4 linked regions of the Homo sapiens genome follow. Changing the gene in region 3 together with the main gene of any one other region gives a genetic interaction. Each region holds a gene or a part of one and is shown on either strand. Other genes may lie near its edges.

The links.
Region 1: changes in ACACA (region 3) and UNKL together harm fitness more than expected from each alone (negative genetic interaction), as found in Homo sapiens cells (one large-scale study listed by BioGRID).
Region 2: changes in ACACA (region 3) and PTPRA together harm fitness less than expected from each alone (positive genetic interaction), as found in Homo sapiens cells (one large-scale study listed by BioGRID).
Region 4: changes in ACACA (region 3) and BCL2 together harm fitness less than expected from each alone (positive genetic interaction), as found in Homo sapiens cells (one large-scale study listed by BioGRID).

The regions. Positions count from the first base shown.
Region 1 is NC_000016.10:1,408,205-1,411,704, forward strand, and holds part of UNKL (putative E3 ubiquitin-protein ligase UNKL), read right to left. Parts: intron 689-3,500; exon of another isoform or gene 190-688; intron 1-189. UniProt on the Homo sapiens protein: May participate in a protein complex showing an E3 ligase activity regulated by RAC1. Ubiquitination is directed towards itself and possibly other substrates, such as SMARCD2/BAF60b. Intrinsic E3 ligase activity has not been proven.
Region 2 is NC_000020.11:3,023,481-3,026,980, reverse strand, and holds part of PTPRA (receptor-type tyrosine-protein phosphatase alpha isoform 1 precursor), read right to left. Parts: intron 2,510-3,500; coding exon 2,360-2,509; intron 295-2,359; coding exon 201-294; intron 1-200. UniProt on the Homo sapiens protein: Tyrosine protein phosphatase which is involved in integrin-mediated focal adhesion formation.
Region 3 is NC_000017.11:37,242,837-37,246,336, forward strand, and holds part of ACACA (acetyl-CoA carboxylase 1), read right to left. Parts: intron 2,379-3,500; coding exon 2,244-2,378; intron 2,140-2,243; exon of another isoform or gene 1,965-2,139; intron 1,899-1,964; coding exon 1,752-1,898; intron 724-1,751; coding exon 535-723; intron 1-534. UniProt on the Homo sapiens protein: Cytosolic enzyme that catalyzes the carboxylation of acetyl-CoA to malonyl-CoA, the first and rate-limiting step of de novo fatty acid biosynthesis.
Region 4 is NC_000018.10:63,125,308-63,127,769, reverse strand, and holds part of BCL2 (apoptosis regulator Bcl-2), read left to right. Parts: 3' UTR 1-2,462. UniProt on the Homo sapiens protein: Suppresses apoptosis in a variety of cell systems including factor-dependent lymphohematopoietic and neural cells. Regulates cell death by controlling the mitochondrial membrane permeability. Appears to function in a feedback loop system with caspases.

The DNA of each region.
Region 1 (3,500 bases), on a different chromosome or scaffold from region 3:
CGCCTGCCCCTCAGCTACACCCCCGGGGCCTCAAGGCCACGCCCACATGGGAGCTGCCCCCCCCCCCAACGACCAGGACGGTTCCCACGGGGGCGGGGCTTCACACGTGACCCGGGACAGCCAATCGCGGGCGCGCAGCGGAGGGGCGTGTCGCGCGGAACAAAAGGCCTTTCCCGAGCGGGGCGGGGCGGGGCCGAGATCACGCTGATGCCCACAGGACCGGCACGGCGTGGGGTGCAACAAGGGGCAGCCACCCACCTAGGAAAGGGTGCACAGTGGGGGCACCCACGGGGGCAGGCACCGGAGGGGGTGCCCACAGAGGATAGAGGACGCCGAGAAGTGACCTGGGGAGCCATAGGATGAGGAAGAGAGAAGAGATGACAGCAGGGGCTGTAGGAGGTCACCCTCCACGGAGGGAGGGGTGACGGCAGAGGCGTCCGCAGGAGCTGGTACCGGTGGGGCTGCCCCCAGGGGGGGCTGACAGAGGCAGCAACTGAGCAGGCAGGGGTGGAGCGAGGTGCCAGCCTGCCGTGGAAAGGAGACGCCAGCAGCGGGGGGCCCTCCTGGGGTCCCAGTCCTGCTCTGCCCCACAGCTCAGCCCCAGCACCTCCAGCCACAACCAAGAGCAACGCCTGATACGGGCTAAGGGTCTCTGCTCTCTGATACACATTCATGTGTAAAATAACAGGTTGGTAGTATCAACACCCAAAATAGAAATTTCTTTTTTTTTTTTTTTGAGTCTTGCTCTGTCGCCAAGGCTGGAGTGCAGTGGCGCGATCTCGGCTCACTGCAACCTCCGCCTCCCACGTTCACGCCATTCTCCTGCCTCAGCCTCCCAAGTAGCTGGGACTACAGGTGCCCGCCACCATGCCCAGCTAATTTTTCTGTATTTTTAGTAGAGACGGGGTTTCACCATGTAGGATGGTCTCGATCTCCCGACCTCGTGATCTGCCCGCCTCGGCCTCCCAAAGTGCTGGGATTACAGGCGTGAGCCACCGCGCCCAGCCAAAATAGAAATTTTAAAAACCAATGAACTAAAGAAAAGGAAGGCCCTGTCCTTATTCTGAACGTTCCTTTATTTACAAATTCCGAGGCAACCCTTAATGAGAACCAGAACGGGTACTTCAATAGGACAAACTGGCTATTCCCTTTGTTCAGCGATGAGAAAGTCCCACTCCCGTGGAATGAAGGATAATTATGGAGGAGAGATCTCAGGGGAGGCAGCCTGTCAGACACTTCCTAAAGGGCCGGTCGAAGCAAGTCATTCACACGCTACAAACAAAATCTTAAATAAAATAAGGAAATTTCCTTACTATGTGTGCATATACCCAGGTATCCAAAACAAAACACCAAACAGGCATCTTAGCCCCACTTACCACCCTCAATTATAAACTGTAAGCCATTCAGACAGCAGGCTAATATTTTTGTAATGATGTTATGGAACTGCTACTTGAGCACAGCTTGAAGTGACCACCTAGAGGCAGGCGCTTACTACAGCACTGTCCATCCCTGTAAGAACTGGATACCACCCTGTGCCTAGCAGTGAGGCTGAGTCCACACCAAGACACCCAGACTCCGCAACAAAAACTTATGAGGCCGGGCGCGGTGGCTCATGTCTGTAATCCCAGCACTTTTGGAGGCCAAGGCTAGCGGATCACCTGAGGTCAGGAGTTCAAGACCAGCCTGGCCAACATGGTGAAACCCATCTCTACTAAAAACACAAAAATTAGCCAGGCATGGTGGCACACGCCTGTAATCCCAGCTACTCAGGAGGCTGAGGTACAATAATTGCTTGAACCCAGGAGGCAGAGGATACAGGAGCCCAGATCGCACCACTTCACTCCAGTCTGGTAGATAAAGCGAGAGCGAGACTCCATCTCCAAAAAAAGAAACAGTTATGAAAAGATGCTTTCTCGCCGGGTGCAGGGCTGCACACCTGTAATCCCAGCACTTTGGGAGGCTAAGGTGGGAGGACTGCTTAAGTCCGGGAGGTCGAGGCTGCAGTGGGCTGTAATGGCACCACTGCACTCCAGCCTGGGTGACAAAGCAAGACCCTGTCTCAGAAAAAAAAAAAAAAGAGAGAAAAAGATGCTTTATCTTTATGCATTAAAAGCATCACCTGGCCAGGCACGGTGGCCCATGCCTGTAATCCCAGCACTTTGGGAGGCCGAGGCGGGTGGATCACCTGAGGTCAGGAGTTCGAGACCAGCCTGACCAACATGGAGAAACCCCATCTCTACTAAAAATACAAAATTAACCGGGCGTGGTGGCACATGCCTGTAATCCCAGCTACTTGGGAGGCTGAGGCAGGAGAATCGCTTGAACCCGGGAGGTAGAGGTTGCGGTGAGCCGAGATCACGCCACTGCACTCCAGCCTGGGTGACATAGAGTGCTGCCAATCAGTGCCCTGTATTCAACACTGGAGTGGGGTCAGACAGGCTGGGTGCTCGTCTTCACACTTCCAGGACCCCCACACCAGAGTTAAGCAGCAGTGGCCCTACTTGCAACTCAGGATCCCAGGTCTGGGCAGATAAGGGGCTTGACCAAGGGAAATCAGGGGCTGAGCCCAGACATCAACTAGACAAATACCTGCCTTTGAAAGCCCCATTTGCGGAAAACAGTGGCTTAAAAACCAATTCAATTATGCACTTTCAGAACCGCCTTGAAGTACATCACCATCCTAACCAAAATGGGCTGACTACATTATTTCAAGTTTAGGCATCAACCTGCCTTAACAACACTATGGCCGGGTGTGGTGGTTTGCACCTATAATCCCTGCACGTTGGAGAGGCCAAGGTGGGAAGATCGCTTGAGGCCGGGTAACACAGCGAGACTCCATCTCTACAAAAAAATTAAAAATGAGCCGAGGTGTGTGGTGGCTCACACCTGTAATCCTAGCACTCTGGGAGGCTGCGGTGGGAGGATCTCTTGGGTCCAGGAGTTTGAGACTGAGACCAGCCTGGACAATGTAGCAAAACCCCTTCTCTACTAAAAATACAAAAACAATTAGCCAGGCGTGGTGTAGAGAGTCTATAGCTCCAGAGGCTGAAGTGGGAGAATCACTTGAGCCCAGGAGGTAGAGGCTGCAATGAGCTGAGATCGTACCACTGCACTCCAGCCTGGGCAACCAGAGTGAGACTCGGTCTCAAAAACAAAATAATAAATAAAATAAAATAAATTAGCCAGGAGTGATAGAGCACTCCTGTGGTCCCAGCTGCTCAGGAGGCTGAGGCAGGAAGATGGTTTGAGCCCTGGAGGTTCAAGTTGCAGTGAGCCGTGTTCATGCCCCTGCACTCCAGCCCAGGGCACAGAGCAAGACCCTGTCTCAAAAAACAAAAACAGCCGGGCGCGGTGGCTCATGCCTGTAATCCCAGCACTTTGGGACGCCGAGGCGGGCAGATCACGAGGTCAGAAGTTCAAGACCAGCCTGACCAACATGTAGAAATCCCGTCTCTACTAAAAATACAAAAATTAGCTGGGCGTGGTGGCACGCGCCTGTA
Region 2 (3,500 bases), on a different chromosome or scaffold from region 3:
GCCTTTGGCTTTTACGTTATTTCCAGAAGCCACTAAGGTGCAACAAAAGGCAACGCCATGTTGTTAAGTGGGTGCAACAAGAGGCAATGCCATGATTCTTGTCTATACGCCAATCATTAACTAGTACCTGAGAAATGGAAGGGGTGGAGGGAATTGAGGGATGGGGCAATAAGGCTTTGGAGTGGCGGGAGGGCTCTTACATGGAATGATCTGTAAAACACGGTTCTTCTTCATGTTGGCTGGAAGGTTTCCAGTCCGCATCTTGTCATTCTGGATTTTGATTGATGTTAACTTCTGAATTGGGAAGGGGAGGGGAAACATTACTGATCCCAGTAACTGAACTTGACAAGATTATGCCTGTCCCTTGGCCTGCACCTCCAGGCCACTCTGGCTCCATACTGCTCTTCTCACCAGGGCCCTGACCTCTGTTCCCATATGTTCAGCTGGAACCCTGAAGCCAAGAGACTGTTTGGGAAATGCTACCTTCCAGGCTCCTGTGGACTCTCTTGAGATTCTCCTGGCTTGGAATTTTGTGATCCTGGAGCAAGGGATTCCAGCATCGTAGGAGGGAGTGTGTCCACTCTGCAGTTCCACCCCCAGAGGCTGCCTAAGGCTCTTCAAAAAAACTTATTCAGAATTGCATCCTCCCTTCCCGATTGAGGCTCCTTCTTGACATTTGCTACTCAAAGTGTAGCCCATACACCAGCAGCGTTGGCTTCACCTTATTAGAAATGCAGAATCTCAAGCCGGGCGTGGTGGCTCATGCCTGTAATCCCAGCACTTTGGGAGGCCAAGGTGGGCAATCAACTGAGGTTAGGAGTTTGAGACCCGCATGGCCAACATGGTGAAACCCTGTCTCTACTAAAAATTAGCCGGGGGTAGTGGCACGTGCCTGTAGACCCAGCTACTTAGGAGGCTGAGACAGAAGAATCCCTTGAACCCGGGAGGCAGAGGTTGCAGTGAGCTGAGATCGCGCCATTGCACCCCAGCCCGGGTGACAAGAGTGAAACTCCATCTCAAAAAAAAAGAAAAGAAAAAAAGAAATGCAGAATCTCAAGCTCTAACTCATACCTGCTGAATCAGAACCTAATATCTTTTTTTTTTTTTTTTTTGAGACAGAGTCTTGCTCTGTCACCCAGGCTGGAGTGCAGTGGCACAATCTCAGCTCACTGCAATCTCTGCCTCCTGGGTTCAAGTGATTCTCCTGCCTCAGCCTCCCAAGTAGCTGGGATTACAGGCATGTGCCACCATGCCTGGCTAATTTTGTATTTTTAATAGAGACAGAGTTTCTCCGTGTTGGTCAGGCTGGTCTTGAACTCCTGAGCTCAGGTGATCTGCCTGACTTGGCCTCCCAAAGTGCTGGGATTACAGGCATTAGCCACCGTGCCTGGCAGAACCCACATCTTGACAGGATCCCAAAGAAATCTGTGCACATGCTATATTTGAGAAGAACTTCTCTAAGTGGTCCTCCCCACCCCAACCCAGAATCTCCTGCTTCTGAGAAAGCACTTTTTTTTTTTTTTTTTTTGAGATGGAGTCTCGCTCTGTCGCCCAGGCTGGAGTGCAGTGGCATGATTTCGGCTCACTGCAACCTCTGCCTTCCGGGTTCAAGCAATTCTCTCGCCTCAGCCTCCTGAGTAGCTGGGACTACAGGCATGTGCCATCATGCCTGGCTACTTTTTGTATTTTTAGTAGAGACGGGGTTTCACCATATTGGCCAGGCTGGTCTGGAACTCCTGACCTCATGATCCACCTGTCTCAGCCTCCCAAAGTGCTGTGATTACAGGCGTGAGCCACTGTGCCCAGCCTGGGAGAGCACTTTTACTGATGACAGTGTGACATATGCCTTAGGTGTGTTGAGAACCATTGTCTAGTGGCATATAGGAGCTATCAGTGATCTAAGGTCCAGAGGCCAAATCTGGCCTGCTGCCTGCTGCCTGCAAATAAAGTTTTATAAAACAGCCACACTCATTATATTTACCTATTGGTTATGGCTGCCTTTGTGTTACAAAGACAGCACTAAGTAGCTGGATAGAAACCATGTGGGCTGCAAAGCCTAAAATATTTATTATCTGGCTCTTACAGAAAAAACTGCTCTTGCTGTGTATCATAATCACCTCGGAGGGCTAGGGGCCTTAAAATACTGTTGCCTGCTTCTCCCTACTCTAACACAACCAAAGTGATTCCAACGTGCAGGATGAGTTGAGAGTTACCAGAGTACGAGGAAAGGACCATCTCCTTAACCACTGGCATGCCTCACAAGGGGATTTACTGTTGGCAAATGCACAGTCAGGCATCCCATGTTCCCCAGATTACAAGGATCCTTCAATCTGAAGGAGGTTATCCAGCTCCAACTCACCTTAAACTCCTCCTCTAATCCATTGTTGCTGGTCCCTGGGATTTTGTTGTAAATTTTCTGCAGGTGGGTTTCTAGAGAGGTCACTTCCAGTTCTGTATCTCCATAGAGATAATGCTCCAGAAGGGCTTGGTATATGAAGACATACTGCATCTGAAACATGAATGACACAGAAGTTCTTGGTTACATACAACATAGTTCTCATGCCAGATCACCTGTTCCCACCCCCACTTCACTCCAGTCCATTTCTCCTTTGATCCTAGCAGGAATAAAAGGACTCCCTCTTATTATCCCAATTTAGTGAAGTGGGACTTGAAATGCAGGAGTCCCTGTGGGGGTGCTTTACTTGGGAAGAAGGGTCCAGGTCTATCTTGGGGGTGGTGGACGCCTGGAGAGAAGGACAAACTCAATTCCTGTTCATTCTGAGAGTGCAGATTTAATAGTCTGAAGGGGCTGTCAGAAACTGGAGACACCCAAAGCCCGTGATAGTCTGGTCCCTGCCTCCCTCCTGGTGCTATGCCCCAACTGCAGAGCCAATCTCACTGCTGCTCCCAGATGTGGCCGAGCTTCATCATGTCTCTGGGCACTGGCTCTTTCAGCTGCCTGTTCCCTAATCTTTGAAGTCCAGTAACCTGTCATCTGCCTTCCTGACTCTCCCAGGCATGAAACCACAACCTCCTCTGTGCTCGATTTCTTTGAATACATAATTTATAAGAGCCCTTCATCACATGAAAGGGGCTAGCCCCTCCACACCTGTGGATGTTTCTCGTCAGGTGGGACGAGAGACTGAGGAAAGAAAGAAGACACAGAGACAAAGTATAGAGAAAGAACAGTGGGCCAGGGGACCGGTGCTCAGCATACGGAGGACATGCGCCAGCACTCGTCTCTGAGTTCCCTCAGTATTTATTGATCACTATCTCTACTATCTCGGCTAAGGGGATGTGGCAGGACTATAGGGTAATGGTGGGCAGAGGGTCAGCAGAAAAACATGTGAGCAAAGGACTCTGTGTCATAAATAAGTTTAAGGAAAGGTGCTGTGCCTTGATGTGCACGTAGGCCAGATTTATGTCTGACTTTACACAAACATCTCAGTGCAGTAAAGAGCAGTATTGCCGCCAGCATATCTCACCTCCAGCCATAAGGC
Region 3 (3,500 bases):
GACCATCCTGGCCAACATGGTGAAACCCGTGACTACTAAAAATGCAAAAATTAGCTGGCATGGCAGCGTGTGAATGTAATCCCAGCTACTCAGGAGGCTGAGGCAGGAGAATTGCTTGAACTCGGGAGGCAGGGGTTGCAGTGAGCCGAGATCAGCCACTGCACTCCAGCCTGGTGACAGAGCTAGACTCCATCTCTAAATCAATGAGTGAATGAATGAATCAATCAATCAACTAATATCACTCTATTTTCAATTCATGAAAATACCTCTAATTAGGGAATAGCCCCAGGAACAAAGCTATAAGGTATACATGATCCAAGTGTGCTTTTCTCATAACTACAGATACTTATCCTTCACATACAGTACTTTCACTGTTGGGTTTGTACCCTGAGGCAGTTTTGTGAGGAATACAATGCTTAAAAGTATACAAGCACAACATCCAAAAAGTAAGGAGGATCCAAATAGGAAGGAATCCTACAACATAAACTCTGGCATTGGTAGCCAGAAAAAAATATAGTGTTATCCTATAAATACCTGCTGGCTGGGAAACTGACAGAGGACTGATGTGATGTTGCTAGCATACTGAGCCATTTCCTTCTTGATAGACTTCTCCACATTGGGGGGAATGCGGCCAGACACACTGGTCATAATATCTTGCAATTCTAGGAGAGGCAGGGAGGGATCTCTGAGGGTTTTCATCAATCGCTCTACCCAGTCTTTTACCTAGAAAGAAAGCATTGGTAAAATAGGACCCAAGTTAACACAATCCCCCAAATAAAAAGATATATAGTTGTCATTCTGTATACGTGGGAAATTGGTTCCAGAACCACCACTCATATATGAAAATCTGCACATACTTGAGCCCTACGGAACCCATGTATAGAAATAGTTGTGGGTTCCATATCTCATCAATACTGTAATTTTGATCCATGTTTGGCTGAAAAAATCCACATATAAGTGGACCCACACAGTTCAAACCTGTATTGTTCAAGAGTCAACTATATCTGAATTCACTATCATATACTACTTCTTTTCAATAAAAATTTATATAATTTTCAATAGATATGGGGTCTTGCTATGTTGATCAGGCTGGTCTCAAACTCCTGGCCTCAAGCGATCTTTCCATCTCAGCTTCCCAAAGTGGTGAGATTACAGGCGTGAGCCAACTATCATAGAGTACTTTGAAATTGCAACGTAAGCATCTAACATTGCCCCTATTCTCCAGTTTAAAAAGGACTAATCACGGGCGGGCACAGTGGCTCACGCCTATAATCCCAGCACTTTGGGAGGCCGAGGCGGGCAGATCACAAAGTCAGGAGTTCAAGACCAGTCTGGCCAACGTGGTGAAACCCCACCTCTACTAAAAAAAAAAAAAAAAAATTAGCCGCGCCTGGTGGCACGTGCCTACAATCCCCACTACTCAGGAGGTTGAGGCAGGAGAATCACTTGAACCCAGGAGGTGGAGGTTGCAGTCAGCTGAGTTTGTGCCATTGCACTCCAGCCTGGGCAACAGAGCAAGACTCCGTCTCGAGGAAAAAAAAAAAGGAGTAATCACAATTAAATGTGAAGTCCATGACAAGGATAAGAAACATGGATTTAAAGACCTCAAGTCCCACAACTGAAGGTGAAAGAGTTCTAGGCCAAACAGCTTTCTTTTCCTCCCTCTTAAACAATCATTATGAGACTTGGAACTATTTTGGAGAATAGGTATCCCATTTGTACATCCCTTCCCCAGGAGACGTGATACATACCTTGCTGCTAAAGAAAGGATCTGGAAGGCAGTATCCATTCATTACATTGACCAGATTATCCAGGACATAATGGAACACTCGATGGAGTTTCTCGCCTCTGAGTGCCGTGCTCTGGATCCGTGGCAGACTACCTGTGTGAAGTTCAGCCTGTCAACCCCAACAAGAGATCAAGTCATCTACTACTTTTGATCTAAGGTACAAACACACCACTGCACTTAAGAGTTATCATTCAAAATCGAGACATCATACCCAGCTACCAGGAGGGAAGTCAATAGAGGAAACATCATAAGGAAATTACAGAATCTTAGTACTACAGTAACTCTTGCAAACTCTAGTTCCATAATACTACAGGCACAAATACAAGGCATAAGATTAATAGGGGACAAAGCTAAAGAAAACACTGGCAAACCAAGCATTGAAATCACTTGCCTCTCCAAACCACCAAGTTCTTTAGCTCTTAGAGAGCAATATTCGGAGCACCTTCCTACTCACCTGCTGAACCTTGCTGGGGTTGTCCAGTTGCATTTTGGCTAGTACACAGCCAGGGTCAAGAGCTGCTCCAGGTCGCTTGACGTAATGGATACAGCCAGACTCCACAGCTGTTAAGGTCATTACCATCTTCATTACCTATAGTGAAAAATAAACTAGACTCAGATTTATCTCTCTTTACACAGATGAGTGCTTAAAAGAACTAAAATTTTTCCCTTAGCATCTAAGTTGGACCACACCTAATTTGACCAAGAAAAAATGGGAATTTACCATCATCTCCTAGGGACTATCAAGGCAAGCAATTAGAAAATCTCTCAGTACCTCACTTTAGGAATTAATAACAGTTATTGACATTTCTCCTTTCTAACTTTTACAACCATTTTGGCATAATTTGTGATTATATTTGTTTTGTACTTAGAAAGTAAGGAACAATTTAATATCCTCATACCAGTGAATCCAATCTAAGACAACCAGGCCAAAACCTAAGGATCATTCTTCACTCCTCTTTCTCCCTTACCTACCAATTACCAACCCAGCCAGACATATCTTCTAAACCTTTCTCAAAAATCTTCCTCTCTTGCCAACTCTTCGGTTTACGCCTTCTTCATTTCTGGCCCAAAGTACTTCAAAGACCCCCTAAGAGATCTCCCTACTTGCTACATACCTCCCTCAAGGTCACGAAAAGCAATCTTCCTAGACCCCAAATCTCATCATACTACTTTTCCACTTAAATCTTTCAGAGATTACCTGCTGCCTCCAGGATAGTGAAAACTTACTAGTATGGTTTATAAGATCCTTCATAACCTCACATTCAAGATCTCACATTACTTCTTTAGCACCTTTGCTTGTCCCTCCCCATTAAACCTTAGTCTATTCTCAAGCCACACCAACACATACTTGCAGTTCCCTAAATACACTGTGCTGTCTTGCTTCTGTCTTTGTACATGCTATTCCTTCAACTTTAAGCACTCTTCCCTGCCCTTCTTCACCTGCTCTATCACTATCTGTCTTTCAAAACTAAGATCAAATGTCTCTTCTTTCAGAATATCTTCCCATACAAGCTTAGCTTGATTTGGGTTAGGTGACCCTCTGCACTCTATGCTTAGCTCTCTTAAAATTAATCACATGACATTTCTTGTCTGTTTTGTGCCCCACCTCCATGTATTTTCTCTGGATAGCCAGCAGTTAGGACACCTAACATTCAACAAGTGCTATTGCCTAGTATCTATTTTTAGAACTAGAGATTCCTCATTTGCCTAT
Region 4 (2,462 bases), on a different chromosome or scaffold from region 3:
GAAACAGAATCCTCTGGAACTTGAGGAAGTGAACATTTCGGTGACTTCCGCATCAGGAAGGCTAGAGTTACCCAGAGCATCAGGCCGCCACAAGTGCCTGCTTTTAGGAGACCGAAGTCCGCAGAACCTGCCTGTGTCCCAGCTTGGAGGCCTGGTCCTGGAACTGAGCCGGGGCCCTCACTGGCCTCCTCCAGGGATGATCAACAGGGCAGTGTGGTCTCCGAATGTCTGGAAGCTGATGGAGCTCAGAATTCCACTGTCAAGAAAGAGCAGTAGAGGGGTGTGGCTGGGCCTGTCACCCTGGGGCCCTCCAGGTAGGCCCGTTTTCACGTGGAGCATGGGAGCCACGACCCTTCTTAAGACATGTATCACTGTAGAGGGAAGGAACAGAGGCCCTGGGCCCTTCCTATCAGAAGGACATGGTGAAGGCTGGGAACGTGAGGAGAGGCAATGGCCACGGCCCATTTTGGCTGTAGCACATGGCACGTTGGCTGTGTGGCCTTGGCCCACCTGTGAGTTTAAAGCAAGGCTTTAAATGACTTTGGAGAGGGTCACAAATCCTAAAAGAAGCATTGAAGTGAGGTGTCATGGATTAATTGACCCCTGTCTATGGAATTACATGTAAAACATTATCTTGTCACTGTAGTTTGGTTTTATTTGAAAACCTGACAAAAAAAAAGTTCCAGGTGTGGAATATGGGGGTTATCTGTACATCCTGGGGCATTAAAAAAAAAATCAATGGTGGGGAACTATAAAGAAGTAACAAAAGAAGTGACATCTTCAGCAAATAAACTAGGAAATTTTTTTTTCTTCCAGTTTAGAATCAGCCTTGAAACATTGATGGAATAACTCTGTGGCATTATTGCATTATATACCATTTATCTGTATTAACTTTGGAATGTACTCTGTTCAATGTTTAATGCTGTGGTTGATATTTCGAAAGCTGCTTTAAAAAAATACATGCATCTCAGCGTTTTTTTGTTTTTAATTGTATTTAGTTATGGCCTATACACTATTTGTGAGCAAAGGTGATCGTTTTCTGTTTGAGATTTTTATCTCTTGATTCTTCAAAAGCATTCTGAGAAGGTGAGATAAGCCCTGAGTCTCAGCTACCTAAGAAAAACCTGGATGTCACTGGCCACTGAGGAGCTTTGTTTCAACCAAGTCATGTGCATTTCCACGTCAACAGAATTGTTTATTGTGACAGTTATATCTGTTGTCCCTTTGACCTTGTTTCTTGAAGGTTTCCTCGTCCCTGGGCAATTCCGCATTTAATTCATGGTATTCAGGATTACATGCATGTTTGGTTAAACCCATGAGATTCATTCAGTTAAAAATCCAGATGGCAAATGACCAGCAGATTCAAATCTATGGTGGTTTGACCTTTAGAGAGTTGCTTTACGTGGCCTGTTTCAACACAGACCCACCCAGAGCCCTCCTGCCCTCCTTCCGCGGGGGCTTTCTCATGGCTGTCCTTCAGGGTCTTCCTGAAATGCAGTGGTGCTTACGCTCCACCAAGAAAGCAGGAAACCTGTGGTATGAAGCCAGACCTCCCCGGCGGGCCTCAGGGAACAGAATGATCAGACCTTTGAATGATTCTAATTTTTAAGCAAAATATTATTTTATGAAAGGTTTACATTGTCAAAGTGATGAATATGGAATATCCAATCCTGTGCTGCTATCCTGCCAAAATCATTTTAATGGAGTCAGTTTGCAGTATGCTCCACGTGGTAAGATCCTCCAAGCTGCTTTAGAAGTAACAATGAAGAACGTGGACGTTTTTAATATAAAGCCTGTTTTGTCTTTTGTTGTTGTTCAAACGGGATTCACAGAGTATTTGAAAAATGTATATATATTAAGAGGTCACGGGGGCTAATTGCTGGCTGGCTGCCTTTTGCTGTGGGGTTTTGTTACCTGGTTTTAATAACAGTAAATGTGCCCAGCCTCTTGGCCCCAGAACTGTACAGTATTGTGGCTGCACTTGCTCTAAGAGTAGTTGATGTTGCATTTTCCTTATTGTTAAAAACATGTTAGAAGCAATGAATGTATATAAAAGCCTCAACTAGTCATTTTTTTCTCCTCTTCTTTTTTTTCATTATATCTAATTATTTTGCAGTTGGGCAACAGAGAACCATCCCTATTTTGTATTGAAGAGGGATTCACATCTGCATCTTAACTGCTCTTTATGAATGAAAAAACAGTCCTCTGTATGTACTCCTCTTTACACTGGCCAGGGTCAGAGTTAAATAGAGTATATGCACTTTCCAAATTGGGGACAAGGGCTCTAAAAAAAGCCCCAAAAGGAGAAGAACATCTGAGAACCTCCTCGGCCCTCCCAGTCCCTCGCTGCACAAATACTCCGCAAGAGAGGCCAGAATGACAGCTGACAGGGTCTATGGCCATCGGGTCGTCTCCGAAGATTTGGCAGGGGCAGAAAACTCTGGCAGGCTTAAGATTTGGAA